2 separate regions of the Homo sapiens genome follow, and region 2 is linked to region 1. Evidence: fine-mapped expression QTL. A gene starts in region 1. The other region holds a variant in brackets. All regions are shown on one strand. Distances are between the middles of the regions.

Region 1 (15,681 bases):
ATTCGGGCCTACTTGAGAGTGGAGGGTAGGAGGAGGGTAAAGATTGAAAAACTACCTATCAGGTATTATACTGATTAACTGGGGGACAAAATTATCTACATACCAAGCCCCCAAGACACACAATTTACCCATGGAACAAACCCGCATATGTACCTCTTGAACCTAAAAGTTGGAAAGAAAAAAAACAAACAACAACAGCAACAACAACAAATAAAGTCTATGCTTTTAACATAAGGTTATATGCATGTAACAGACATTTACTGAGGCACTGGGGAGAGTAAGACAAGGTCTCTATCTTCAATTATGATAAAACGCCACATAATGTTCATTTTTTGTTTGTGCTTGTTTTGAGACAGTGTCTCATTCTGTTGTCCAGGCTGGAGTGCAGTGGCGCAATCTTGGCCCACTGCAACCTCTGCCTCCCACGCTCAGGTGAGCCTCCCACCTCAACCTCCCGAGTAGCTGGTACTACAGACACTCACCACCATGATCGGCTAATTTTCTGTGGTTTTTTTTTTAGAGACAGGGTTTTGCCGCATTGCCCAGGCTGATCTCAAACTCCTGGGCTCAAGCAATCCACCCACCTCAGCCTCCCAAAGTGCAGGGATTATACACAATGCTAGTTTTTAATATTAGGAATAACCAATAATCTATAACATAAGAGAAACTATTAAATACTTAACTACGTATACCACTTTCTTTTCCAAGGGCTTCACTTTCTTTTTTTTATTTTTTTATTTTTTTATTTTTTTCGAGACAGAGTCTCACTATGTCACCCAGGTTGGAGTATAGTGGTGCATCCTCGGCCCACTACAACCAACACCTCCTGGGTTCAAGTGATTTTCCTGCCTCAGCCTCCTAAGTAGCCAGGATTACAGATGCGCACCACCATAACCAGCTAATTTTTGTATTTTCAGTAGGGACGAGGTTTCACCATGTTGGTCAGGCTGGTCTCGAACTCCTGGCCTCAGGTGATCCACCCACCTCAGCCTCCCAAAGTGCTGGGATTACAGGCGTGAGCCACCACACCCATCTTTTTTTTTTTTTTTTTCTGAGACAGGCTCTTGCTCTGTTGCCCAGGCTAGAGTACAGTGGCATGGTCTCTGCTCACTGCAACCTCTGCCTCCCAGGTTCAAGCAATTCTCCTGGCTCAGCCTCCTGAGTAGCTGGGACTACAGGTGTGCGCCACTAAGCCCAGCAAGACTCCGCCTCAAAAAAAAAAAAATTAGCCAGGTGTGGTAGCATGTGCGCCTGTAGTCTCAGCTACTAGGGAGGCTGAGGTGGGAGGATTGCTTGAGCCTAGGAGTTTGAGACCAGTCTGGGCAACATAGCTAGACATAATCTCTACAAAAAAAATTTAAAAATTAGCCAGGCATGGTGGTGTGTGTTGTGGTCCTACAGGTACTCAGGAGGCTGAGGTGGGAGGATAGCTTGAGCCCTGGAGGTCAAGCTGCAATGATTTTGCCACTGCATTCCAGCGTGGGTGACAAAGCAAGACTCTGTCTCACAAAATAAAAAATAAAAGAGGCTGGGCACAGTGGCTCTCCCCTGTAATCCCAGAACTTTAGGAAGCTGAGGTGAGTGGATCACTTGAGGTCAGGAGTTTGAGACCAGCCGGGCCAACATGGTGAAAACCCGTCTCTACTAAAAAAAAAAATACAAAAATTAGCTGGGCATGTTAGTGCAAGCCTATAATCCCAGCTACTTGGGAGGCTGAAGCAGGAGAATCGCTTGAAACTGGGAGGCAGACGTTGCAGTGAGCCAAGATTGTGCCACTATACTCCAGCCTGGGCGACAAAGTGAAACCCCGTCACCAAAAAAAAAAAAAAGAGTAATATATATTCACTGTGGAAAAAGAACTTTAAGACAGAAAAACTAAAATGAAAAACATATTTTTCCATACACAGACATACATTGTATTAACACTGTAGTGTCTTTCTTCACATAGTTTTTCTCTCTCTCTTTTTGAGACAGTGTCTTGTTCTGTTGCCCAGGCTGGAGTGCAGTAGCATGATCATCACTCACTGAAGCCGCAGCATCCTGGGCTCAAGTGATCATCCCATCTCAGCCTTTCAAATCTTTTTTCTATGCATATTTATTGCATATCCTGTAAGACTATACATCGTTTTGGTGTGCCTTCTCTTTCTTTCCCCTTCCCCTACTCCCCTCTTCATCATTCCAGTTGTTTTATTTTATTCAGAGATGGGGTCTCACTCTGTCTCCCAGTCCAGGGTGCAGCAGCTTGATCATAGCTCACTGCAGCCTCAAACTCCTGGATCCTCCCACATCAGCCTCCCGTTAGCTGGGACTAAAGACACAAGCCACACACCCAGCTAATTAAAAAAAATTTTTTTTTGGCTAGGCGTAGTGGCTCACGCCTGCAATCCCAGTACTTTGGGAGGCCGAGGCAGGTGGATCACGAAGTCAAGAGATCGAGACCATCCTGGCCAACATGGTGAAACCCCGTCTATACTAAAAATATAAAAATTAGCTGGGCATGGTGGCACGTGCCTGTAGTCCCAGCTACTCGGGAGGCTGAGGCAGGAGAATCACTTGAACCTGGGAGGCGGAGGTTGCAGTGAGCCGAGACCACGCCACTACACTCCAGCCTGGTGACAGAGCGAGACTCTGTCTCAAAAAAAAAAAAAAATTTTTTTTTAGCCTGGGCAATGTAGTGAGACCCTGTCTCTACAAAAAATTTGTTTTACATTAGTCAGGCATGGTGGCACATACCTGTAGTCACAGCTATGCAGGGTGGTGAGATGGTAGCACTACTTGAGCCCAGGAGATTAAGGCTGCATTGAAGTGTGAGTGCACCACCACACTCCAGCCTAGACAACAGAGAGAGACCCTGTCTCAAACAAAATTTTTTTTGTTTTAGAAATGGGGTCTTGCTATGTTGTCCTGCATAGTCTTGAGCTCCTGGCCTCAAGCAATCCTCTCACATTGGCCTCCCGAAGTGCTGGGATTACAGGCATGAACCACTGTGCCCCTGTGTACATTCTCTAATGTTATTAAAACTCTTCAAAAACATTTAAGAGATAGTTTTGAGTAAAATAACATATGCTGATTATAAACACTTTGTGGAAAAAAATTACCTACAGATAAATGCTATCAAACATTCTGGCTGCTTTCTCATGTGTAAATACATATAAGTTTTTTTGGGTTGTGTTTCAAACAAAATAGGGGTTTATTTATATCCTGATTTTTAAAATTTTATATATTGTAAACATTCTTCCATAATAGTATACATATATTTTAAGATTTGTTAGATCTCATTTGTGAGATCTATACATGTATCATAATTTATTTAGCCATAAAACCTACTGAGACAAGATTTTATTCAATTATATACTACTATAAATAAAGTCACAGGCCAGGCGCAGTGGCTCACGCCTGTAATCCCAGCACTTTGGGAGGCCAAGGCGGGCGGATCATGAGGTCAGGAGATCGAGACAATCCTGGCTAACACAGTGAAATCCTGTCTCTACTAAAAATTAAAAAAAAAAAAAAATTAGCCAGGTGTGGTGGCATGCGCCTGTGTCCCAGCTACTCAGGAGGCTGAGGCAGGAGAATCGCTTGAACCTGGGAGGCAGAGGTTGCCATGAGCCAAGATCGCCCCACTGCACTCCAGCTTGGGCGACAGAGAGAGACTCCATCTCAAAAAAAGAATAAAATAAAATAATAATAATAATGTTACAATAAAATCCTGGTTTGTAAATATGTGCCTGCATCACTAATTAATTCCTTCAGATTCCTAGAAAAGGAGCACCGGGTCATAAGATATGAATTTTCAGTCACATAATAACATGTTGCTAAATTACCTTCTAGATAAGTTAGATCAATTTATATTTCCACATTAGTGCATGAGTGATTGAATCATTCTTCAGTCAAAGCAACAGACTCATGTAACATACCTGTGTAAATGAAATCTAGAAGTATCTGAAAGATTCCTGCTTCAATTCCTAGAATCGGTACAACATCTTTTGAGGACTCTTTCATTCCTCCAGTGAACAAAGCTGCAAAGTAAGGACTGCTGGCAGCCAAAACCAGCCGATGAGCTTTAAAACTTTCCTGTCCAACTTGCAGCTGCACATCACAGAAATGCTGTCCATTTCTCATCTTATTGATTTGGGCCAAGATGAGTTGGGCATGTTTATCTGATGAAAAAGGACTATCAGCAGCCTTGGGACAGTCCTCATTAGCCATGATGACGGTAGATTAATTAAAAGGACTGTTGCCCATAATCTGTTACTACCCTGAAAAACAAAATACAAAGAGATCAAGCAACAAAATTTTTTTAACATGCTTTCTATTCACACATAAGAAGCATTCTCTATACTTAAAATCTACTTAAGGACATAAAACAAATAAGGACTAAAGTGTGGTACTATTACTATTTCTAATATGGTTTCAGAGAATGAAATAAGTAGGGAAGCTAAAATAATTGGAGAATGCTTCACACAAGAAATGGGACCTGCACTAGAAACTGAAAGATAAACAGTTAATATTAAGGTATGAGGAGAGGACACTTCTTGATGGAGTAAAAAAAATAATAATAAAACACAAAGACAGAAAGTTAACAAAGCACACATCACAGAGCACACATCACAGACAACAGCAACTTTCGAAAAGCAGTTGTGATCAGTCTAACTGCTTAAAATCATTCAATGTGTACACTTCCCGTAGCACACAAAGCCCTTCGGGATTCTTGTTATAATTTAAGACTCTGTTCAAATATAACTTCCTCCAGGAACCTTTCCCCATTGCTCCTCTGGAATTGTGGAAATATGTTCCCAAACTCATCTGAGTTTGTTGCTCACCCTAAGCTTATTGGTTTTACATTCTATAGCACAGGTCTACCTTATCAAATACCCTACCACCCTACTCTTAGTGCGCGCATGCGCGCGCACACGAGCGCGCGCGCGCGCTTCAGAGCTCCTTGAAACACAGCCCTTTAAAGGCAGGTACTATCTTTCATAGCTTTAGCACCAGTATATAACATATGTTAGGTTTCCAATGTTTGTGAAATGAATGAGAACAAGGAGAAATAACAACAGCTTAGGTTGGGTTTTTTTTTTAACTTTTAACTTCTCCACATATTATGTCAATGGTAACTCTCACAATAATTAAGAGGTGAGAAGAAAAGATAATCTTATCTAAAATGAGAGAAAAGGAAACTGAAGCTCAAAGTTTCCCCAAGGATACAATGTTAGTATGACAGTCTCAGTATCTGAATCCAGGCCTTCTTACTCTAAATCCAGGACTGTTCCACCATATCACACTGCATAGGAATTATTAGGCCACCGGACACGTTCTAAATTACTTTTTAAATAAAGAAACTGCTGGGCACAGTGGCTCACGCCTGTAATCCCAGCACGTTGGGATGCTGAGGCGTGAGGATCACTTGAATCCAGGAGTTCGAGACCAACCTGACCAACATGACAAAACCCCGTCTCTTCTAAAAATATAAAAATTAGCCAGGCGTGGTGGATCAGGGCTATAATCCCAGCTACTTGGGAGGCTGAGGCACAAGAATCACCTGAGCCCAGGAGATGGAGGTTGCAGTGAGCTGAGATCACACCACTGCCCTCCGCTCTCCAGCCTGGGTAACAGAGCAAGACTCTGTCTCAAAAAAAAAAAAAAAAAAAAAAAAAAAAAAAAACCATGAGATCCTGTAATATAAGACATATGGAATAGCACAGGGAAATTTAAGATGACTAAGATTTTGTAATTTAGGTATCAATGACAATGGGTAATAAGACTTATAGTGTGGGCTGATGTTAGAAAAAAAATGGTTACGTTTATAGCATTTAAACTTATCAAAGTCAAAATAACAAGGCTGATTATCATCACTTTCTAGGAATTAACTTATTGAGAAATTTGATTGAGAGATTCGAAGGTAGCTGCTAAAACTTCATATCACCATCTACAGAATATCAACATATTACATATAACTAGCATATAATAGCAAGAAGTGTTTGAGGTGATGAATATGGTAATTACCCTGATTTGATAATTATACATTATATACATGTATCAAAATATCACACTGTACCTCATAAATGTAAATATAAAACAATTATTATGTGCCAATTTAAAAAATATCTATTTTGGGGGACAGGGTCTCACTCTGTCACCCAAATTGAAGTGAAAAATAAATTTTTTAAAGAGGGTGAAAGGGGCTGGGCACAGTGGCTCATACCTGTAAGCCCAGATTTTTAGGAGGCTGAGGCAGGCAGATCGCTTGAGTCCAGGAGTTTGAGACCAGTCTGGGCAACATGGCTAAACCCTGTCTCTACTAAAAATACAAAAAAATTAGCCAGGCATGATAGCACAGGCCTGTAGTCCCAGCTACTCAGGGGAGGCTGAGGTGGGAGGACCACCTGAGCCAGGGAAGTCCAGGCTGCAGTGAGCTGAGATGGTGCCACTGCACTCCAGCCTGGACAACAGAGCAAGACCGTGTCTCAACAACAACAACAACAAAAAGCAGGTGCGGTGACTCACGCCTTTAATCCCAGCACTTTGGAAGGCTGAGGCGGGTGGATCACCAGAGGTCAGGCGTTCAGGACCAGCCTGGCCAACATGGTGACCCCATCTCTACTAAAAAATACAAAAAATTACCCAGTCATGGTGGTGGGCGCCTGTAATCCCAGTGACGTGGGCGGCTGAGGCAGGAGAATCGCTTGAACCTGGGAGGCAGAGGTTGCAGTGAGTGGAGATGGAGCCACTGCATTCCAGCCTGGGCAACAGAGAGACTCCGTCTCAAAAAAAAAAAAGGAAAAAAAGGGGGTGGGGGCGGAGAAACCATGTATTTGGCCCTACACAGAAATGTGACCTGGAACTATTATCAACATGACATGACTGTCAGGCCTTTTCTGTTTTACATTTCTGTCAGCACATTTTGAACCCTAGTGGTTTAATTACAAGGTACCTCCTCTGTCCCCTACTTCAAGGCATCAAGCACAGCCACTGAGCTAAAATGCTGCCTCCTGCTACAAGAAAGAGTTGACTGAATATCCATTCGGGTGGCAGACAACAGAAATACTAGTCTGTTACCATGCTTCTCAGTAACTGCTGATACCATCCCACTGTCAGTGGAGTAGGAACGTCATCCCAAAAGGTGGCATGTGGAGTGACCATATTTCCAAAGGAAAAGAGCACAATTCTGTGACGTTGCATGCCTCACGTGCCCCAAACTTGAAAAGCAGATTGTTGACTGGGCAAGGTGGCTCACACCTATAACCCCAGCACTTTGGGATGTCCTGTCGGGAGGATCGCTTGATTTTTTGTTTTTTTTTTTTGTTTTGTTTTTGTTTTTTGTTTTTTTTTTTTTGAGACGGAGTCTCGCTCTGTCGCCCAGGCTGGAGTGCAGTGGCACGATCTCGGCTCACTGCAAGCTCCGCCTCCCGGGTTCACGCCATTCTCCTGCCTCAGCCTCCCGAGCAGCTGGGACTACAGGCGCCCGCCACCACGCCCGGCTAATTTTTTGCATTTTTAGTAGAGACGGGGTTTCACCGTGTTAGCCAGGATGGTCTCGATCTCCTGACCTCGTGATCCGCCCGCCTCGGCCTCCCAAAGTGCTGGGATTACAGGCGTGAGCCACCGCGCCCGGCCAGGGAGGATCGCTTGAGTCCTAGAGTTCAAGACCAGCCTGGGCAATACAGCGAGCCCCCCGCCGCAAAAAAAATTGTTTTAACATTAGCTGGCTGTGATGGGGCAAGCCTGTACTTCCGGCTACTTGGGAGGCTGAGGTGAGAGGATCGCTAGAGCCTGAGAAGTCGAGGCTGCAGTGAGTTGTGATCGCACCACTGCATTCCAGCCTAGGAGAAGGGGCGAGACTGTCTCAAAAAAAAAAGCAGATTATTAGGAAACGGTAGAAATGCCCAGAGGAACTAAAGCGGACCTATGTTTGCTGGCTTTGAATTCACTGCTGGGAACATGTGGAAACTGCTTCAGCAAAGGGGTGTCAGAAAGAATCCCCGGAACAAGTGTCAAAACACCCGTGGTTCTTTGTGCTTGAGTTGGGGGCCCGGCCTAGAGAGCTAGCCCTAAACTGCTGCTACACTAAAAGCTAATAATCGTTCCTGCGCTACCTAAAGGTCAGGGAAGGGATCTCAGACAAACGAGGCGACAACAGAGGGACTGGGGACACAGCCTCAGGATTCCCCAGTTGGGGCGGGGGAGGCAGGAGCGGTCCGGACGAGAAGGTCTGGGGAGGGCGACACTTAGACTGTCGGAGGAAGGCCTGCGGCGGCAGAAGGAAAGACAAGGAAATACACAGTTCTAGAGGCTTCTCTCACTCCAGTCCTCAGGGGTCCGGAAAGCCGGAGGGAGTAGAAGAGGAAGTTCCCAACCCCGTCACAGACGCGCCCGAACGCAGGCCCTCCTTACCCGCCGCTTCCCCTTCCCTCCGGCGCCCGCTCAGGCCCTGCGCGCGCAGTCGCGACCAGCCCCGGCCGGAGAGGGCGGGGGAAACCTGGCGGGGGTGACGAGGCGGGAGTGACTGGGCCGTACAGTTCCCCGAGAACTGGAGGCGAAGCCGGGCGGTGGGAAGGGACTTCGGACGCTTCGCGGGCCCTGGGTTTTCACTGCGCGTGCGCGAGGTTCTTCCGCTCGCGGGAGACTGGGCCGCTGGCGCCTCTCAGTGCCCACTGATGGGGCCCAGGGCTTGGGCTTGCTTCCCCAAGGATCAACAGCTTAGCTGCAAGCCTCTGCTTCTGCCTGCTGGGGCCGGCTGGCTCGCCCTTTCCATTCCGCTTGCACTCTGATTCTTGTGGTGTCCCAAGAAGGCCGCGGATCTCAGTTAAGCAGAGACGAGCCGAACACCTGGCACGGTCCTTCTCTACTGTTCTCTCGAATCGTTTTCTGAGTGCATGACTGAGCCTGGCACTGAAGGGATACTTATTTTGGGGAAGGAAGAACTCAAAAGTCCAGTTTTTTTCACTGTTGACCCTCATGTGTCACATTAGTGGCTTTCAAACTGTTTTGATCCCAGCCTACGGTGAACAAAAATATTTTACATCAAACTCAATACCACATACTTGTGAGTATATATATAGAAGTATATATCTAACATAAAATCTCATTTCTTTATTTTTATTTTTATTTTTTATTTTTTGAGACGGAATTTCGCTCTTGTTGCCCAGGCTAGAATGAATGCAATGGCCGGATCTCGGCTCACCGCAACCTCCGCCTCCTGGGTTCAAGCGATTCTCCTGCCTCAGCCTCTCAAGTAGCTGGGATTGCAGGCATGCGCCACCATGCCCGGCTAATTTTGTATTTTTAGTACAGACTGAGTTTCTCCATGTTGGTCAGGCTGGTCTCAAACTCCCCACCTCAGGTGATCCGCCCGACTCGGCCTCCCAAAGTGTATTTCTTTCTCTTTTTATGAGACAGGGCCTGGCTTTGTCGCCCAGGCTGGAGTGCAGTGGTGCCATCTCGGCTCACTGCAGCCTCGACTTCCTGGGCTCTGGTAGTCCTCCCACCTCAGCCTCCTGAGTAGCTGGGACTACAGGCCTGTGCCACCACCGCCAGGCTAATTTTTTGTATTTTTAGTAGAGACAAGATTTCGCCATGTTGACCAGGCTGGTCTCCAACTCCTGGGCTCGAGTGATCCGCCCGCCTCGGCCTCCCAAAGTGCTGGGAGGTGTGAGCCACTGTGCCTGGCCTGAAACAAAATCTTCACAAAACTATGTTTACACTTACGACCCGCAGTGCACTAAATTTTTATTTCTTCTTTTCTACTTCATTACCAAAAACTGCTAACAGGGACCTATTGTCAGCAAACATTGTCAAAGACTTGGAAATGAGGAAAAGAGAATTCTGTGTGCCCTTTCAGTGTAAGGCTGGACGGATTTGCATCCATAGGGAGCTCTGACTTTCTATTGACTAAAGTATTTCACCAGAAAACTGGTAGTACTTAAAATAATTCTTGCCCGTCTGTAGAAAAGATACACCAAAACATTGTTTTATTGACCTGTAGCATATTAAGCCATTTTTACCCTTCTCAGCAAATTCATTTAAACATTCCTGATTCTTAGCAAATTCATGCTACATTCCTAAATATCTTACTGGCTCCCTTATAAGTTAATGAGATAAATAAAATATTTGATACTTTTTTTTTATATTTGTAAGAGAGTCATGGTTTTACTCTTCAGAAAATTATACTTCAGCACTACTAAAATCAATTTCATGACTTACTCTGGATTACACTTGTGAAAGTTAAGCATACAGATTGGGCCATTCTTCTCATACCCACCGAAAATGGTGGGAGGGGAAACACTGAGGGCACATTTCATTGCTCAAAGAATGTAATTCTCTGCAACCCTGTCTGCTGAAACTGCCTGTTGTAACCTGAAACCAGTTTTACCCAATAGCTATTGAAACAAACTGCCATGACTCAAAGACTAGTTTGGTTTTTTGGTGGTTTTTGTTGTTGTTGTTGGTTGTTGTTTTGTTTTTGACAGGGTCTCTCTCCCTGTCACCCAGGCTGAAGTGCAGTGGTGTGATTGGGGCGGGGCTCACTGCAGCCTTGACTTCCTGGGCTCAATCAATCCTCCCACTTTAGCTTCCCAAATAGTTGGAACTACAGCTGCATACCAGCAAGCCCAGTTAATTTTTGTCTTTTTTGTAGAGACAGGGTTTCATCATGTTGCCAGGCTGGCCTTGAACTCCCAGGCTTAAGTGATCCACTCACCTAAACCTCCCAAAGTCCTGGGATTACAGGCTTGAGCCACTGAGCCCAGCCTCAAAGGACTAGTTTTACCCACTGCAGTCACTCACCAATCAGAGCTTGCCAGCAACCTAAAACTTTCCTAGTGCCAATGAACTTTCTTTCAAAGCCATATGTAACATTTCTCCTTTTTGTAAAACCTCAAAGTGAACCAAAGAACACCCAGTCTGTGTATATGCTTTGAATTGCAATTCTTGCCTCCCAAATAAAATGTTAACTTTAGAATTGCTTGGACCTGGGAGGCAGAGATTGCAGTGAACTGAGATCATGCCACTGCACTCCAGCCTGGGCAAAACAGCAAGACTTTGTCTCAAAAAAAAAAAAATGCTTATAGGCTGCTATAGACTAAATTGTGTCCTCCCCATAATTTACATGTTGAAGCCCTAGCCTCCAATGTAATGGTATTTGGAGCTACCACAGTGAGGCAGTGGGATGCGTCTCCCCATAAAAGATAATCGCTAGCCCCTCCCGAAGGAGAACAGGATCCCAGACGAGCCCCCAAATTTATTGGAAACAAGTGCTTGGCGTAGCCAAAAGAAACCCACACTTAGACAGAAAATTTCTCAGTAAGGCACCTTTACTTCTGCAGGATGGTGCTGCTTGCGCCTGTTAAAATCACAAGAGCACACCAAACAAAGGAGGGAAGGAGTTTTTAATCCTAATGCAGTTCCTGTTTTTGTGTCCTTCCCCTATTGACTGGGGTTGGACTGCACAATCTAAGCTGATCCTGATTGGCTAAGACTTAAACTTTTCCAAATATGGTAAACGCACAATTTGCAAAAAGAAGAAGAAGGGGGGCAGGTAGGATTGATTTACAACTTTTACAACTTACGAGCGGAAAGTTGAGTCTTTGAAGAGGCACTTAGTTGTCCCAACAATTTCCCCTCTTCTGTTCTATAGCTCTTCCTCTTCAGATTTCTTCAACAGGATTTGGCTTTGTTGTTCTTCTTGATTATCTAGGAGCAAGAACTTATCTGAGTACAGAGGGGGAGACGTAGGGGAGGATTTTGTGAGAGCTGCTTCTATGAGCCTTTGGGTTAACCCACGAATATAGGGTATGATACAGCAGCCCACAAGGATGAGTACACCTGTAACAATTGCAAGGGAGGTAATGATTGAGGTCATGAGTCCTTTCCATTTTCCAAACCACCTTTCCATCAGGCCCATAAAGGGATCTTCTATTCCAGAGTTTTCGGCTAATTCATTTGCTGGGGTGGTAAGGCCTTGTAAGGTTTTTGAGATTGTCCCATCGGGTGGTGTATTATTAGGGATAAAAGTACAACACTGGACCCCAATCATGACACAGACTCCGCCTTTTTTGGCTAACATCATGTCAAGCGCTATTCTATTTTCCCAGGCCATCTGGCTGGTAGGGCCTAATTGTTCAGCTATTCCTTTTATGGCATCTCTGGTATAATTGATGAATCGCTGCTGATTGTAGTATATATAATTTATCCAGTCTACATTTTTATTTATAGTGTACCACCAGAATAAGATACACTCGATCCCAGCAGCTATTTGGTTTCAAGTGTTGAATTCATTTGGTACCCCCGGCAGGACCCCAATGCTGTCTATGTAAACGTGGGGGTCAAAGGACCCGTTAATTGGGACTTCTCTTTTTCTTCAGGTTACCTGCTTCCTGTCTGGTTGATGAAATGCCAAGGTGAAAGGGATGGCCAATTGGATCAGAGCGCAAGTGCCACTCCAGTCGTTTGGCAGTGTACCCAATATTGGTCCCCCACAATACCACCACACATCCACTCAGGGATGGATAGGGCCGACTGACTGAAAAAAGTTTGAAAAAGTTTAGTGTCACTACATCCTATTATGTTTCCAAGGAATGTCAAATTTTCCCCTTGCCATGAGAGACATGAGGTAAAATTGGCATCAAGAGCTGGAAGTTGAATGGCCCTTGGGGGCTGTCCCATAGGGCTCCTGACCTTTGGGAAAAGTAAGAGTGGCACATGACTTGTTTCCTCAAGCTGTGGGGTGCTAGAAGAGAGCTACCATACAGTCCATGCCGGGTTGGTTGGCCCATCCGAGTGGGAGGGGAACAATTTGGATTTCTGGCCTGCCCGTTGCACAAGCATAACAATCGCTTTTATTTAGTGTGTCAACAGAATATTTAATCCATTTCAGCCAGGCATTTACATCTTGATACCCGGTTTCTATGGCTATGGTTTGGTTTAAGTCCTTGACTTCTACTCTAGCTACTTTGGTTTTGTCATTGGGCATGAAGAGAGAAATGGTTTGATTTTGTGGGTTTGGGGAGGGCGTAATGGTGGAAGATGGAGGAGGAGGAACAAAGTGCGTTTCGAAGAAGCCTATAGGGTCCTTTCCAGTGACATCTGCTCCTAGGCCATAAAAGCACTCTAAAGTGGGTGTAGGGCTGGTGGAGGTAGGGGTATTAATAAAGATAAGTACTGGGTTGCAATGGTAAGATTGGCAACTAGAGAGGGTGGTTCCTTTGATGAAGTGGAGGTAGGATTTAGGGCGGTGCAACCCTCTGAGGAGGTCCAGCCCTGATACTTAGTAGTCCATATAACATCTCCCCAAGTATAGCAAAACCATCAATGCTAAGTTCGTGCCCATTCAGTGCAAGAGTTAGTTTTGTAGGCAGTGTAATTTATCCTAGAGGGACAAAGGTACTTTTCTGAAGAGGCTAGCTATCTTTGACTTTGGAGATCCCCACAGGGCATGACAAGACAGGCATTGAATATAATTGTTTGGGGGGAGGGTGATTGGGTTACACTGATGATTAGATGTCCTTGGGTAGCTAAAGGCAGAAGAAAAAGACAGATTAAACCCTTTTGAATGTTAGTTTGGAGACTGTAGGTCCTGGAGTGAAAGTCCATGACTCTCCAAGGGGTGGGGCCTTTTTTACTCAAGTGTTGTGGGTCCATCCTTTTTCAGCCGTTGGGATTGCTGTTTCAGTGGTTAGGAGTACTAGATAAGGTCCCTCCCAGGTTGGTTTGAGCTTTCCCTCTTTCCAACTTTTGATAAGGACGTGATCTCCGGGCTGGTGTTGGTGAACTGGGAATTCGAGGGGTGGAGTTTGCGCTAGGAGGCCTTGAGTCCTGAGGGAGGAAAGGGTGGAAGACAGACCAAGTATATAGTTTTTGAGAAGCTGACCTTTTGTTTCAAATGTGGGAAGGTCAGTAGTGGAATTTAGATAAGGCAGCCCGCAGAGCATTTCATAAGGGGACAGGCCAAGATCTTTTCAAGGGACAGTTTGGATTCTTAGTAAGGCCATGGGAAGGCATTTTGTCCATGGTAACTGGGTTTCCGAGATTAATTTGGTTAGGTGATTTTTTTTTTTTTGAGACAGAGTCTCACTCTGTTGGCCAGGCTGGAGTGCAGTGGCACGATCTCGGCTCACTGTAACCTCTGTCTCCCAGTCTCAAGCAATTCTTCTTGCCTCAGCCTCCTGAGAAGCTGGGATTACACCGCACCTGGCCTGGTTAGGTGATTTTTTAGAGTTTGATTCATTCTTTCTACCCTCCCTGATGAGGGGAAGTGCCAGGGAGTATGATATTCCCATTTTATTCCTGTTGCTTGGGTTAGCCCCTTAATGATGTGTGCAGTAAAGTGGGTCCCATTGTCTGAATCAATGTTCTCTGTTAGTCCAAACCTGGGTGATATGTTCCAACAGGGCTTTGACTACATTGCTGGCTATTGTGCTTGGGAAGGGGATGGCTTCTACCCAGTGGATGCTAGTCTACTATGACTAGCAAATACTTGAGACAGCCTATTGGGGGCATTTCAGTGTGGTCAACTTGGACGCTTTAGAACGGCCTCAGCCCTGGGTTTCTTCCCCCGGGAGGCTTGCCTCTTTAGGGTTTGCTTATTAGTTTTTCTGCACACTATGCAACCATCCGCCACTTTATCGAGGGTATATATCCCTATACACCCATAGACCCTAAGGGCTGCATTGCATATAGCTCGAGGACCCCAGTGAGTTCCTTGATAAAGCTGTGACAATACTTCCCTCATGAGGGGTTTAGACAGCATTTCCCTTCCATCTGTTAGTACCCACTTGCCCTTTGGGCTCTCCTTAGCTCCTGTTTTCTTTAGTTTCTCTTGGTCTGCGTGGGAGAAGATGGGGATTGCAGCTGGAGGGGGAAGAGAAGAAGTTAGATGGAAAATGGGTGACACTTGGGAAGAGGCAGCTTGCTTAGCTACTTGATCTGCGAGGTTATTTCCCCAGCTTTCAAAAGATGAGTTCTTTTGGTGTTGGTGTTGTGGGACATGGACAACCGCAATCTCTTCCGGCAGCTGAAGATTTTCTAATACTTGCATAATTAATTCCTTGGGGACCAAATCTTGGCCCTTACTATCGATGAGGCCTTGTTCAATCCAGATCTTTCCAAAGGTATGGACTACTCAGAAGGCATACTTGGAGTCAATGTAAATAGTTCCTTCCTGATTCTGCAGGTATTTTAAGGCTTGGTTTAATGCAAAGAGTTAACATGCTTGGGCAAACCAGTTATTTGGCAGTCTTCCTGACTCTACCTCTGTGAGGGTTTCCCCACCAACTATGGAGTACCCGTTGTGCCTTTTTGCTTCAATGACCTAGGAGGAGCCATCTATAAAGAGATGACCCTCTATTTGGAAAGGGGTTTCACTTAGATCCACTCTGACTCTAGTTTGATAACTGATTAAATCTAAGCATTTATGCTCAGGTTCTTCCTGGTTTGGATTTCCTGTTAGGAAAGCAGTGGGGTTGAGTGAATTGTCAGTGGTTAGTGTTAGGTTATCCCTCTCTAATAAGATAGCTTCATATTTTAAAATTCTTGAGTCAATGAGCCATCTCCCTGCCTTCTGATTAAGAACGGTTCTCACTTGATGAGGGACACTTATGATGAGGTTTCCTCCAAAGGTTATTTTCCTGCTTTCTTCTGTTAGCAAGGGAGTTGCTGCTATGGATTGGACACATTCGGGCCATC
Region 2 (15,681 bases), 49 kb before region 1:
CAGCCAAACCAGACTACCTTAATTTAGCTAGCAGTGCAGCTCCTCTTTTCTTTTCATGGTTTGCCTTCCTTATTTCTGAAAGACTTAGTGAAGCCATAGTCACAGTAATAATGGGTATGGGAGTAGCATTCCACCTTGAACTTTTTCTCTTACCACATTATCCCAACTGGTTTAAAGCCCTGAGGATAGTAGTCACTTTATTGGCCACTTTTTCATTTATAATCACTTTAGTAGTTAAAAGTAGTTTTCCAGAAAAAGGACATAAGAGACCTGGTCAAGTATAAAAAATATAAAAGTCTGGGAAGTGAGGAGCACCTCTGCCCAGCTGCTGCCCCGTCTGGGAAGTGAGGAGCGCCTCTGCCTGGCCGCCTGACCATCTGGGAAGTGTGACAAGCGCCTCTGCCCGGCCGCTGTGCAACCTTCCACGTGTGAAGTGACAGCCTTGTGTGTGATCTTTTCTGTCTTCCCCAAGTTTGCATTTTCGACATTAAAGTTTACTTTTTAGTTAAAAGTTTTAAAAATATATATATATAAATACACTGTAGATAACATTTGTATGCCAGCTACACCTTTTTCTACTTCTGTTTGGCTTTTTTTCCCCACACCAATGGTAATTTATCTTCACAGATTGTTCTTCATTTCTAGAAATTGTTACTTCATGGTAATTACTTGAGCAAAAGCTTGAAAATCCCTGACAAGTACTTTTCATCTCATAGTATATTAGTTTTCACTCAGTCATTTTATGAATAATATAGTTATCCACTTAAACATTTCAATATTTTAACCATCTTGAAAATTAAAGATTAAAAATCCCCTTTGTTAGAGTCTTGTGATCATTGAAAAGAATGCACATATTCTCCCACTTCAAGCGGAAAACCTCGTATCTGTGAGTATCTGAAAAGAAAAGGTAGTTCCATTGAGTTTTCACAGGAGTTACCACTGGGAAAGGCATGTCCAAACTTATTTCACATGGTATAACCCAATTATATGAGCTAAAAGGATCTATGGCTCTAAAGTCAGTAGGGAGCAGTGTCATGAGGGAAAGCCACATTCAAAGGTAAGTTGGACATGTTTTCCAGTTTTTATTAGGATATTTGGCATGGTACAGATAACAACTTGTCCCTTACCACCAAACACATAATAGCTGGTCAAAATGATTATTTTCAAAGGAAACTATTTAAAATAAAGCCACTAGTACATATAAATTAGGAAAGAAAAGTCAAGCTGGAGCCATCTTGATATTCTAATGAGCAGGCCTATCTAGTTCTACATCTTTTTTTTTGAGATGGAGTTTCATTCTGTCGCCTAGGCTGGAGTGCAGTGGCACGATCTTGGCTCACCGCAACCTCCACCTCCCGAGTTCAAGCGATTCTCCTGCCTCAGCATCTCTAGAGTAGCTGGGATTATAGGCACGTGCCACCATGCCCAACTAATTTTTTGGTGTGTATTTTTAGTAGAGGTGGCATTTCACCATGTTGGACAGGCTGGTCTAGTTCTACATCTTTTAAATCACAGAGAAGCTTTTAGCTTTGGTGTGTTTTTGTTTTTGTTTTGTTTTGTTTAAACGCAGGGTCTCACTCTTGCTCAGGCCAGAGTGTAGTGGTGTGGTCATGGCTCACTGCAGCCTCGACCTCCTGGGCTCAAGCAATTCTCCCACCTCAGCCTCCTGAGTAGCTGGGACTACAGTTGTGCACCACTATGCCAAGCTAATTTTTTAATTTTTTGTAGAGACAGGGTCTCCCTATGTTGCCCAGGCTGGTCTTGAACTGAGCTCAAGCAATCCTCCTGCCTAGGCTCCCAAAGTGTTAGGATTGCAGGCGTGAGCCACTGCACCCAGTGCAGAAGCTTTCTTAAAACAGCAAAAGCAACACCTTAGATTTTCACTTGAAAACGTAGTCTCTAATCACTCTACTTAAGGTGGAGAAAAAAAGAATTAACAGAAAACCTAGTTTTCTGAAATTCCTAGTCTCACCAAAAAGGAAAAACATTAAAAATGGTCTAAGGATTAAAAATGGTCTAAGGATATAGATCAGGATATAGTATAACCTGGAATTTTTTTTTTTTTTAGATGGAGTTTCACTCTTGTTGCCCAGGCTGGAGTGCAATGGCGCTATCTCGGCTCACCGCAACCTCCGCCTCCCGTGTTGAAGCGATTCTCCTGCCTCAGCCTCCCGAGTACCTGGGATTACAGGCATGCGCCACCATGCCCAGCTAATTTTGTATTTTTAGTAGAGACAGGGTTTCTCCATGTTGGTCAGGCTGGTCTCAAACTCCCAACTTCAGGTGACCCACCCACCTTGGCCTCCCAAAATTCTGGGATTACAGACATGAGCCACCGTGCCCGGCCTGTATATTTTTTAGAGATGATGTTTCCACTCAGTCTCAATCTGATTCTACTCAGATTGTTTTGATAAGGAAACTCACTTCTTTGTTATTAAATTGCATGAATGCTATACAAATTTAAGACTTTTCCATAATCTGAATTAAATGAATTATTTTCCAGAATAGAGGCAAATCATATTTTTAGGCTAATTGCCTAATTTTACTTAAAAATGCTATTTTTCCAGGTGAATTACAGTGTATGCTTCTTTAAGAAAACTGATTTTTAAGTACATTTGATTAAGTACATTGGCAGGATACTTAGAAGCATATCGGATTGTTAAACATTTTGGAGGTAGATCACTTTAATCATTTCTCAAAAAACAGAATTAAATGTAAAATGAAATGTGCAAGTCCTTAAAGTTAAAACAAAACCAACTAAAAAACTTGTGCAATCCTACTACAGTTTGGTAACCCAGAATGCCACTGATAAAGTAATACAAAGAAACAAAAAAACTAGATACTTTATTAGTACATTCTTTTAAAAACAATCTTGTTAGCCTGGTGAGGTGGCTCATGCCTGTAATCCCAGCACTTTGGGAGGCCAAGGCAGGCAGATCACCTGAGGTCGGGAGTTCGAGTCAAGCGTGACCAAGATGGAGAAACCCCACCTCTACAAAAAATACAAAATTAGCTGGGCCTCGTGGTTCATGCCTGCAATCCCAGCTACTCAGGAGACTGAGGCGGGAGAATCGCTTGAACCCGGGCGGCAAAGGTTGCGGTGAGCCAAGATCATGCTATTGCACTCCAGTCTGGGCAACAAGAGCGAAACTCCATCTCAAAACAAAAACAAAAACAAAACCAATCTTGTCATTACCTAGGAATAATAAGCATATTTACAGTCACCTATTTTCAGGGATCTTCGGGACCTGTTAAAACACTGACTGCCTTGACATTACATTTCTGCCACAGCTGTGCAAAGCACACCCCTTCAAAGTGTCATTTTCAGTTGCTACTAGACAATGAGAAATTAGTTGTAGAAGTATTTTGTAAATCTGTTTTGAATCAGAATACAGATTCTCTGTAACTAGAAATAGTAAAGGCACATGAGTTATAGCTTAGTCTATAAATTATCTTTATTCTTTGACATCTTACAGATCTCTACACAGACATCTGTGACCCTTCAGACGTTCAGGATGCCCCAGAGAAGGGAACATAGAGCTTCCTGTCTGCATTACATAAACTTTTCCTAATAAATGCATATGGTTAAGTTATAAGGAAGGTATAGTTGTAGACTAAACCAAATATTTTTTGTTTTATTTTTTTTTGAGACAAAGTCTTGCTCTATGGCCCAGGCTAGAACACAGTGGTATGATCTCAGCTCACTACAACCTCCACCTCCTGGATTCAAGTGATTCTCCTGCCTCAGCCTCCTCAGCAGCTGGGATTACAGGCATGTACCACCACCTGCTGCCAATTTTTTGTATTTTTAGTAGAGACGGGGTTTCACCATGTTGGCAAGACTGGTCTTGAACTCCTGACCTCAAGTGATCTGCCCACCTCAGTCTCCCAAAGTGCTAGGATTACAGGCATAAGCCACGGTGCCCGGCCTAAACCAAATAATTTGGATATGAGTGCTACCTAATTCATTAATGCAATTAAAAGTTTTCTATCTAAATAAGTTGATGATGCTTATAGTAATATACTGAAGGACCTTAGCAAAGAAATGGGAAATCGGCAGAGTGCGGTGGCTCACACCTATAGTCCCAGCACTTTGGGAGGCCAAGGTGGGCAGATCACAAGGTCAGGAGTTCAACACCAGCCTGGCCAACATGGTGAAACTCCGTCTCTACTAAAGATACAAAAAATTAGCCAGGCATGGTGGCTCACGTCTGTAATCCCAGTTACTCGGGAGGCTGAGGCGGGAGAATCGTTTGAACCAGGGAGGCAGAGGTTGCAGTGAGCTGAGATCACACCATTGCACTCCAGCCTGAGTGACAGGGCAAGACTCCATCTAAAAAAAAAAAAAAGAAACGGGAAATCAAATCCTTAAGTCAACTAGTTAAATTTTACTGTATGCAGCCGGGCACGCTGGCCCATGCCTGTAATCCCAGCACTTCAGGAGGCCAAGGCAGGTGGATCACCTGAGGTCAGGAGTTCGAGACCAGCCTGGCCAACATGGTGAAACCCCATACAGAAAAATTAGCTAGGCATGGTGGTGGGCGCCTGTAATCCCAGCTACTTGGGAGGCTGAGGCAGGAGAATCGCTTGAATCCGGGAGGCGGAGGTTGCAGTGAGCCGAGATCACGCCTTTGCACTCCAGCCTGGGCAACAAGAGCAAAATTCCATCTCAAAAAAAAATTTTTTTTACTGTATGCAAGACCTTTAATATATATTGCTCCAACTGGCCAGTAGAAATAACTTAAAAGTAACCGCATCATACACCCAGTAAATCTTTCTCTTAGAAATGAACAGAGAACAATTCTTTAGAATGCTTCTCAGGGAGAAAATGAGAAGTTTTGAGAAGCAGTTTTGTTTGGGTCAAGGGGTACTTTCAAATTACACTTATGAGTCAGTATCTATAAAAAGTTTCAGAAGTACCTACAATTTAGCCCTCTACATCCAAGCAGTAGCTTTGCAGTATGCTCTTACTTAGGTTTGCCCAAGTACAAATAAATTTTACAAAGCTTGATAATCTAATAAAATTCCCTCTTCCTAAAGCCAAACAGATAATTTTGGTGACAACAATCTAGCAAAAAAGGAAGAATTTTTTTTT[C/CT]TTTTTTTTTTTTTTTTTTTGAGACAGGTTCTCATGCTGTCACCCAGGCCGGTGTGCAGTGGCACAATCTTGGCTCACTGCAGCCTTGACCTCCTGGGCTCAAGTGATCCTGCAACCTCAGCCTCCCAAGCAGATGGGACCACAGGTACAAGCCACAACGCCCGGCTAATTTTTATATATTTTTTGGTAGAGACGGAGTCTCATCACGTTGCCCAGGCTAGTCTCGAACTCCTGAGTTCAAGCCATCTTCCCGTCTCACCTCGGCCTCTCAAAGTGCTGGGATTACAGGTGTGAGCCACCATGCCCAGCCTAAAAAAGGGAGAAATTTCTAGGTGCATACTGCCTGCTGGACTGTATAGCCCATTACAACATCTGGTCACTAAGAACCTCCTATTAATTCCTTACTTGCATTCTCAGGATCAAGACAAAAAATATGAGCAAGCAAAAACTTATCATCAAGCAAAAAGGTATCTATCTATTAAAATAGCTAGATATTTCCCAAACACCCCTCCTAGGATATCTGCTGCCAATAAAAAGTTTGGGGCTAGTGAAAACTCTTGGCATTAAATAAAAGTAGGAATCTATTTCATTGGCTTTCTCTGTGGCTCAAACTATGGCCATGGAAAATTATGCTCTGGATATAATTGTGAATATAGAGGTCTTTAAACTGTGTCATTGACACTATTCCTATATCACATAAAGTTTTATGTTACAATTTATACTGCACTGGAGAAGTAGCTAAAGGGACTATTTGCCAGGAAGCTTCTAGTAAATAATTTCTACAAATTTGTAAAATAGGAGTTGTCTACACTTAAACTGGAGAATTCTACAGCATAAATGGCATTTCTATTATTAGTAAACCTGGCAAATCTGTGTGAGCTCTTTATTAATTGGGATATATTCCATATCCATTCTCACTCATATTTTTAGAAAAATCATTCTTGAGTTTATTTTTTTTCTTTAAGAGACAGGATCTCATTCTGTTGCCCAGAGTGGAGTGCAGTGGCATGATCGTAGCTTACTACAACCTCAAATTCCTGGGCTCAAGTGATCCTTCTGCCTCAGCCTTCCAAAGTGCTGGGATTATAGGCATGAGGCCACTGCGCCCAGCCTCGTTAGTCATTTATCTACCAAATACATGGAAAACTCACAGAATCAGAGGGTCTTATCACCAAATCTATGTTTGCTTTGCAAAAGGTCAGGTCCTGCATTTTCAAAATGTTCCTTGTGCTCTGTTATGCTTTATATTTCATAGCACAGCAACGCCCCCTTCACAACGACTGGTGATCATGTTACCAATTTCTGTCCATGTATCTGAATGAGGGTTATAAACTTCAACTGAGTCCAAGGTACCTGGAGCCAAAAAATCATGGCTGGAAGATCGACCTCCAGAAACATACAGAAGACCATTGACTGCCACAACACACATGCCTGCTCTAGGCACTTTCATTGAGGCAACTTCAACCCACTTTTCCTGGTTAAGAGAGAAAAAAAAAATATGTTAGCAGTGTTATGAAATGATAGTAAAGAAATCCACTGAGAAATTCGATATCCCAGTTCTTTTTACATGTTTAAATGTAAAACTATCTAGTCAGGTAAGCATACAGATTTTTTTTTCTTTTTTTTGCTTTGTTTTTTCCTTGGAGACAGGGTCTCGCTCTGTCACCCAGGCTGGAATGCACAGCAACGATCTCGGCTCAGCGCAGCCTCAACCTCCCAGACTCAAGAGCTCCTCTTGCCTCAGCCTCCTGAGTAGGTAGGACTACAGGTGTACACCACCACACCTAGCTAATTTTTCTATTGTAGAGATGGAATTTCACCATGTTGTCCAGGATGGTCTTAAACTCCTAAACTCAAGTGATTGTCCCACCTCAGCCTCCCACAGTGCTAGGATTACAGGTGTAAGCCACAGCACCCGGCCCAGAATATTTTAAAATAAACTTGAAGTGGGCATGAACAAAGTAAATTTAGAGGAATATAATTTTTTAAAAGGTCTGATTATAAAACATGATCAGGAAATGACCTAGAACTCATACACAGGACAACATTCTAAGAAACAAAGTCTATGGAATACAAGTAGGTAATACACTCAAAAATAAGCAAATAAAAACAAAAGAACCACAAAGCTCCAAGGAGAAAGAAGCTTATAAACCAAAGGATTTTTTAAAAGCCTTTAGTATTTTAATGAGTCTTAAAAATGTCCAAGAGAATGACACAGCATGGAACACCTGACAAATTTATTTGACCATGGAATCCTTTTTACAAGGAGCATCCAGTGGAGTTAGTAATCTGCAGAACATATTTTCAAAAAGGTGGGCTAACCAGGGGTTGGGAACTATAGTCTACTTTGGTATAGCCTGAGAACAAACAATGATTTTCCCATATTAAAAGGTATTTTTTAAAAAAAGACAAAGCATATATCAAAAAAGGATATTGTGTATGGCCCACAGGCCAAAAATATTTACTATCTGGGCTTTTACACAAAAAGTTTGCTAACTCCTGTTATACATCATTCCCTGAAGAAATTTCAATGTGCTGCTATAGCCAAAATGACTAGTAGTGTCTTACTTTTTTTTTTGTTTTTTTTTGAGACGGAGTCTCGCTCTTGTTGCCCAGGCTGGAGTGCAATGGTGTGATCTTGGCTCACTGCAACCTCTGTCTCCCAGGTTCAAGCGATTCTCCTGCCTCAGCCTCCTGAGTAGCTGGGATTACAGGAACCCGCCACCACGCCTGGCTAATTTTTAGTATTTTTGGTAGAGACAGTTTCACCGTGTTGGCCAGGCTGGTCTCAAACTCCTGACCTCAAGTGATCCACCCGCCTTGGCCTCCCAAAGTGCTGGGATTACAGGCGTGAGCCACCGCACCCAGCGACTAGTAGTGTCTTACTTGAGGGAAAACGTCCATACTCAGAAAACAAGAAAGCTACTAAAGGTCCTAAGAAGTAATTAGGAGAGCAAAGAGCAAGTGGCCAGGTAATGGGAGAACAGATTATCAATCTTTAAATAAAGCATATGATGAACAAAGTTTTTTTAATCATAAATAGTGAAGACTGATTATTCATCAATGCTAGAAAGTAAATTTTTGAGGACAGGGACTTGAGCTTCTCATCCCAGTACCCACATAGGTACTAGGATAGTGCCATCATATTATAAACAGTTAGTGTATGTTTGCTGATGTGAACTTAAATAAGATTATGAAATACTAAACCAGGGACAATTCTTTGAAAGTGAAGGACTAGATTAAATTTGAAAGCTATTTGATCATCTGAAATTACACAGCACATCACAAAACTGACACAACTGAAAAATACTTACATTTTAAAATATAAATACATTCTCAAGAAGATCCATTTCTGGTTAAGATAAATTAGGATAATTTAGGTTATGTTTGTAATTAGGGAGAACCTTTGCTCTCCCACAAAATGCCCCTTGACAATAACAAAGGGACCTTAGGGCTCATCCTATATTGTTCTTCTTTCATTTCTACCAGTGTATTAGAACTACAGTTTAATTTTTAAATTTTTATTACTTTATTTTTGATTTAATTGACATGTTCTCATCTAATATAATTTGCTTTTTATCCCATGTTACCTCAAAAAAAAAAAAACTCTGTAAGAACACTAACAAGTTTTACATTATCTTTTCTGGATTTGTAACACAAATTGTTAGTAGGTAGTCAATAACAATAAAATTTCATATGCATAAAAAACAAGGTAACACATTGTCGTTGTTGTTGTTGTTATTATTATTATCATTTGAGACGGAGTCTCACTCTGTCGCCCAGGCTGGAGTGCAGTGACATGATCTTGGCTCACTGCAACCTCTGCCTCCTGGGTTGGAGCAATTCTCCTGCTTCAGCCTCCCAAGTAGCTAGGATTACAGGTGTGCACCACCACTCCCAGCTAATTTTTGTATTTTTAGTAGAGACAGGGTTTTACCATGTTGGCCAGGCTGGTCTTGAACTCCTGATCTCAGGTGATCCACCCACCTCAGCCTCCCAAAGTGCTGTGATTACAGGCATGAGCCACTGCACCCGACCATTAACAATTATTGATAAGACTTAATTTGAAACTAAAATCTATTCATTTCAAAGCCATATAGAAAAATTAGCAACAGAAAGTGCCCTCAAAAAGTTCACTTTCTATATTAGATAAACTCAAATAGGATCATGGAGAAAGGAATTTGAAATGTCACCAAAGTTTAAAACTTGTCAGAAATGAGAATCAAAATCCTTATGCTTTACAACAAGACATGAAAGTCCATTCTTGCCACTTCAACATTGTACTGGAGGTTCTAGCTAGGGTAATGAGGGGAAAACAATGAAAAAAAATGCATCTAGTTTTAATCCAGATTTAAGAAGTAAAACAATCTTTTTTGTTCGTTTGTTTTAAAGACAAGGTCTCACTCTGTGGCCCAGGCTGGAGTGCCGTGGTGCAATCATGACTTACTGCATCCTTGACCTTCCTGGGCTCAGGTGATCCTCCCACCTCAGCCTCCTGAGGAGCTGGGACTACAGGCGTGCACTACCACACCTGGCTAATTTTCACATTTTTTATAGGACAGGGTTTTCACCATGTTGCCCAGGCTAGTCTTGAACTCCTGGGCTCAAGTGATCTACCCACCTTGGCCTCCCAAAGTGCTGGGATTACAGGTGTGAGCCACTGCACCTGGCCAAAAGTTCTGAAGGTTTTACTAACCATAAGTGACATTAAAAACCATAAAATTCAAATAAGACTAAACCTTATTTCTCAAAATTTGTTCCCTGAAACACTTCCACAAGATATTCTGCAAATATCCACAGAACAAAGCAAGGGTGGTTATGTTCAAGTGAATTTGAGAGACTTGACATAAAGATTCATAAAGTACATTATTGTACTAAATTCTGTAAAGAAGTCCTGTGGTAAAGAAACTAATTTAACCTGGTTTAACCCAGATTTCCTTGAATATAGTTGACCAGGGAAACTCAAGTTACTCAATTCCTATTAACAGTGCAAAAAATTAGTATTCCATGGAAATTAATTCGGAAAAAGCTGGCCTAACCTGTAAGTCTAGGGCATAACACACTTTGTACTTCACTTTCCCAGCACTTAACACATTGTAACATAACTGACTATTTATTTCTCGTATTCCTCAATGCAATGTAGCCTCCTTGAGAGCAGTGGCTGTATATGTTGAGTTTGTTCTTGTTTCTGCCTGGCATGGTGTCTGATCCATACTTACATACTAAGAAGTCTGTATTTGTGAATGAATAAATGAGCTAATGAACAAATACATGACAGAACAGTGACTCAGTGAAGATGCAACCTCCTGTCTCCTACCTTTCTCTTCTCTTCTCTTACTATAAGCATAATTGTGTCAACCCAGGAACTGAGGGAATGAGGGAACCCTGGGGAATTCACCTAGGCAGTGACTGGATGGGTCACTGGAGATGTTAGATGGAGAAGACAGCTGGTATGGTAAGAAAATTGGCTTCATTTAGCAAATAAGTAAATTGAATGAAATATTGAGGATAATGGAAGCAAAGTCTTTTTTTTTTTTTTGAGACAGAGCCTCGCTCTGTCACGCAGGCTGGAGTGCAGTGGCGTGATCTTGGCTCACTGCAGCCTCGGCTTCCTGGGTTCAAGCGATTCTCCTGCCTCAGCCTCCAGAGTAGCTGGGATTATAGGCGCCTGCCACCACGCCCAGCTAACTTTTGTAATTTTAGTAGAGATGGGGTTTCACCATGTTGGCCAAGCTGGTCTTGAACTCCTGACCTAGCAATCCACCCGCCTCGGCCTCCCCAAGTGCTGGGATTACCGGCGTGAGACACCGCGCCCGGCGGAAGCAAAGTCTTTAACTGACAGAAAAGGTATTTACAACATGGAAAGGGAGAAGGCCTGAAAAAACCTGGTGTACTAGAATTGGAGCTATCATTATGAATTCATGGTTTTACAATATAACTGCACAAATAGATATAGAAATATTTACAGATGAATATGTGTGTGAAAACCTGTTTACATACATACATTTCCTAGCTCTGTTTACTGAGGGTGGCTATGAGGTAGAAGGTGGTGAATCAACTCCAGACAAGATTGAAGACTAGCTGAAACAGGGAAGAGGCGAAAGCAACTCTCTGTAAGACACACCCACCAGTGCCCTGTCAGTTTACCATTGCCAGTGGCAACACCCAGAAGTTACTGTCCTTTCCATGGCAACAACCCAGAAGTACCACCCTTTTTCTAGAAAATTCTGAATAACCCACCACTTAATTTGCACATAATTAAAAGTAGGTATAAATGACTGCAGAACTGCCTCTGAGCTGCTACTCTCAACACACTGTCTATGGAGTAGCCCCGCTCTGCAGAAGTAGTTACAGAGCTGTAACACTGCCACCTCAATAAGGTTGTTTTCTTCTACCACCAGCTTGCTCTTAAATTCCATCCTGAGCAAGGCCAAGAACATTCCTGGGCTAAGCCCAATTTGGGGCTCTCCTGCCCTGCTACAGCTAGAAGCAGCAACATCCAAGTAGCATTTAGTACTCTAAGTGTGTACATCTTGGTTTCTAAATACTGTCCTTCACCAAAAGGAAATAAGGCTTCTTGAAGAAATGGCTGATTCCAGGGCTAAAGCAGAAAAAGTATAAGATAAACTGAAAATATTTCTGCCGGAAAATAAAGAAATGCTGAATGAATGACAGTAATGTATCAAAAGGACACAGGAGGGATTTCCATTTCCAGACATAATAGATCAATTGTTACCAAACTTGCCCTCTGACCCTAAAGACCTAGAAAACTAGATAAAACATGAAACAAAACTTTTAGGCATTAGGCCAGGTGCGGTGATGGCTCACGCCTGTAATCCCAGCACTTTGGGAGGCTGAGGTGGGCAGATCACTTGAGGTCAGGAGTTTGAGACCAGCTGGCCAACATGGCAAAACCCTGTCTCTACTAAAAATACAAAAATTAGCTGGGCGTGGTGGTGCGCACCTGTAATCTCAGCTACCTGGGAGGCTGAGGCACAAGAATCACTCGAACCCAGGAAGTGGAGGCTGCAGTGAGCCAAGACTGCCCCACTGCACTCCAGCCTGGGAGACAGAGTGAGACATCGTCTCAACAAACAAACAAACAAACAAACAAAAAACCTCTCAGATATTAGATAACAGGCAATGTAAAACTGTAATCCCTGAGAAAATGAAACAAAGTAAACACAGCCACCTAGACTTTATGCCTGGAGGGGCTTTTTGAAAACAGGTACGCAGAAGGGGATCTCAAGCAGTGCATGATAGTCAGCTGATACAGGAGACAGAGATCAGAGTTTGGTACAGTATACAGGTCCCCTTCAGTCTTTGACTGAATACTACTAATCTATGCATGCTAAGGTGAGATTCCGTGGGTACAGGCAAAGGACAACTAATGGGAGGAGTTGTAAGCTGAGTAATTCCTAGAGCTCACACAAGGCTATGAGATATTTGAGTTCTGACCAACCAAAGTGAAGATAATTTGTTGAACACCTGGGGCAATCAGCAGAGACCCAAAAAGAGTCATGCTTTAGTAATAGGGATAAACTAGATCTAAAGGAAGGGCTACTCTAGACCTTCCCTACAAAGCCTTAAAACAAGTCTCAAGCTGGGTACCATGGCATGTATCTGTAGTCCCAGCTTACTTGGAAGGCTAAATTGGGAGGATTACTTAAGTCCGGGAGTTTGCGTCTAGCCTGGACAATACAGCAAGATCTCATCTCTGAAAAAAATTTTTTAATAATTTTTTTTTTCCAAGATGGAGTTTCACTCTTGTTGCCCAGGCTGGAGTGCAATTGCGTGATCCCAGCTCACTGCAACCTCTGCCTTCCAGGTTGAAACGATTCTCCTCCCTCAGCCCCCCAAGTAGCTGGGATTACAGGCATGCACCAACCTGCCCAGCTAATTTTGTATTTTATTAGTAGAGACAGGGTTTCACCATGTTGGCCAGGCTGATCTCGAACTCCTTACCTCAGTGATCCACCCATCTTGGCCTCCCAAAGTGCTGGGATTATAGGTGTGAGCCACTGCACCCAGCCTAAATAATTTTTTTAAGTCTCAAAAATATCAGTCTGATTTGCAAATAATTGAATTATTTAACAAAACAAAATTCAACACTTAAAAGAAGAAAACAAAATCCAAATACTCAGCAGCATAATATTTACAATGTCTACCATCTAATCAAAAGTTAATAGAAATGTGGAGAAGCCAGAAAAAATGTTACTCAAACCAGGAATTTAAAAAGTCAACAAGGCACCATAGTGCATGTCTGTAGTACTAGTTACTCAGGAGGCTGAAGCAGAAAGACCACTTGAGCTTAGGAGTTTGATGCCACCCTGAGCAACACAGCAAAACCTTGTCTCTAAAATTTTACAAGTCAACAGATACATATCCAAACATGACAGAGATGATGAAATTAGAAAAGACTTTAGGCTGGGCACAGTGGCTTACGCCTGTAATCCCAGCACTTTCGGAGGCCGAGGCGGGTGGATCATGAGGTCAGGAGATCGAGACCATCCTGGCTAACACGGTGAAACCCCATCTCTACTAAAAATACAAAAAATTAGCCAGGCGTGGTGGTGGGCGCCTGTAGTCCCAGCTACTTGGGAGGTTGAGGCAGGAGAATGGCGTGAACCTGGGAGGCGGAGCTTGCAATGAGCCAAGATCGCGCCACTGCACTCCAGCCTGGGTGACAGAGCAAGACTCCATATCAAAAAAAAAAAAAAAAAAAAGACATGACTTTAAAACTAATATTATTAATTGTTTGGGGAGCTAAAGGAAAATATGAACATGATGAGGAGAGAAACAGAAGACATAAGAAAACAGATCTTCTAGAGCTAAAAAATACAATATCTAAAATGAAAAATTCCATAGATGGGATTGGACACTGCGAACTAGAAGTTTGGATACTCTAAAGGATTAATAAACTTGAAGACAGAGCAAAACAAACTAGACAAACTGAAGCATAGAGAGAAAAGAGTGGGAAAAACTTAGCAGAGCCTCAATGGCTGTGGGACAATATTGGGTGGTCTTACATATATATATATAATTGGAATCCCAGAAAGACAAGAGAATATTTGAAAAAATATGGCAGAAAACATTCCAACTTGATTAAAGCTATAATCCCACAGATTCAAGAAGTTCAATGAATTCCAAAAAGGTTAAACAAAAATAACAAGGCACATCATAATCAAATTACTGAAGACCCATGATGAGGAGAAAATCTTAAAAGCTGCGGAAGAAAAAACACGTTACATATGGAGGAACAAAGACAAAAATTACTACTGACTACTTGTCAGAAAAAAATCTAAGAGGAAATTAAAAAACATCTTCAGGGTGATTATTTTATTTTATTTTTACTTTTTTTTTTTTGAGATGGAGTCTCACTCTGTCGCCCAGGCTGGAGTGCAGTGGCATGATCACAGCTCACTGCAAGCTCCACCTCCCAGGTTCATGCCATTCTCCTGCCTCAGCCTCCCAAGTGGCTAGGACTACAGACGCCAGCCACCACGCCCAGCTCATTTTTTGTACTTTTAGCAGAGACAGGGTTTCACTGTGTTAGCCAGGATGCTCTCAATCTCCTGACCTCCTGATCTGCCCGCCTCGGCCTCCCAAAGTGCTGGAGTAACAGGCGTGAGCCACCGCGCCCAGCCCAGGGTGATTAAAGATAAAAAAAAGCAACCTAGGGCCAGGCGCGGTGGCTCACATCTGTAATCCCAGCACTTTGGGAGGCCGAGGCAGGTGGATTACCTGAGGCCAGGAGTTCAAGACCAGCCTGGCCAACATGGTGAAACCCCGTCTTTAGGAATAACACAAAAATTAACCAAGTGTGGTGGTACACACCTGTAATACCAGCTACTCAGGAGGCTGAGGCAGGAGAATCACTTGAACCTGGGAGGCAGACATTGCAGTGAGCCAAAATCGCACCACTGCACTCCAGCCTGGGTGATGAGAGTGAAACTCACCTCCAAAAAAAAAAAAAAAAAAAAGCAACCTAACATTCTATACCCAGCAAACTATCTTTCAAAAATGAAGGAGAGTCTGAACGCGGTGGCTCATGCCTGTAATCCCAGCACTTTGGGAGGCCAAGGCAGGTAGATCACCTGAAGCCAGTAGTTCGAGACCAGCCTGGCCAACATGGCAAAACCCTGTCTCTACTAAAACAATACAAAAATTAGCTGGGCGTGGTGGTGGGTACCTGTAATCTCAGCTACTTGGGAGGCTGAGGCAGGAGAACTGCTTGAACCCGAGAGGCAGAGGTTGTAGTGATCCGAGCTCGTGCCGCTGCACTCCAGCCTGGGCAACAGAGCAAGACTCCATCTCAAAAAAAAAAAAAAAAAAAAGGAGAAAAAAAAGACAGTTTCAGAAAATGAAAGCTAAGAGAAGTTCATCACCATCACCACCAGACCTGCACTGGAAGAAATATTAAGAGAAGCTCTTTGGCTGGGTGCGGTGGCTCACACTTGTAATCCCAGCCCTTTGGGAGGCCAAGACAGGCAGATCACGAGGTCAGGAGCTCGAGACCATCCTGGCTAACAGAGTGAAACCCCGTCTCTACTAAAAATACAAAAAATTAGCCAGGCTTGGCAGCA

Evidence for each region.
Region 2: its variant is fine-mapped to the expression of IPP in whole blood (INTERVAL, PIP above 0.99).

The regions. Positions count from the first base shown.
Region 1 is chr1:45,742,203-45,757,883 of GRCh38, forward strand. It overlaps IPP (intracisternal A particle-promoted polypeptide), which reads right to left and starts at 8,451. Exons shown (of 9, transcript NM_005897.3): 1 at 8,395-8,451; 2 at 3,918-4,259. The coding sequence starts at 4,209. LOC105378693 (a long non-coding RNA gene) reads left to right here and starts at 8,747. Exons shown (of 3, transcript XR_947290.2): 1 at 8,747-9,046; 2 at 12,363-12,539. RefSeq lists a silencer at 8,292-8,561.
Region 2 is chr1:45,693,622-45,709,302 of GRCh38, forward strand. It overlaps TMEM69 (transmembrane protein 69), which reads left to right. Exons shown (of 3, transcript NM_016486.4): 3 at 1-815. The coding sequence ends at 284. IPP (intracisternal A particle-promoted polypeptide) reads right to left here. Exons shown (of 9, transcript NM_005897.3): 9 at 5,090-6,569. The coding sequence ends at 6,345. Among named protein-coding and RNA genes, the nearest start is that of TMEM69, 13 kb to the left of the region's middle. The variant C/CT (reference allele first, on the strand shown) is at 5,096.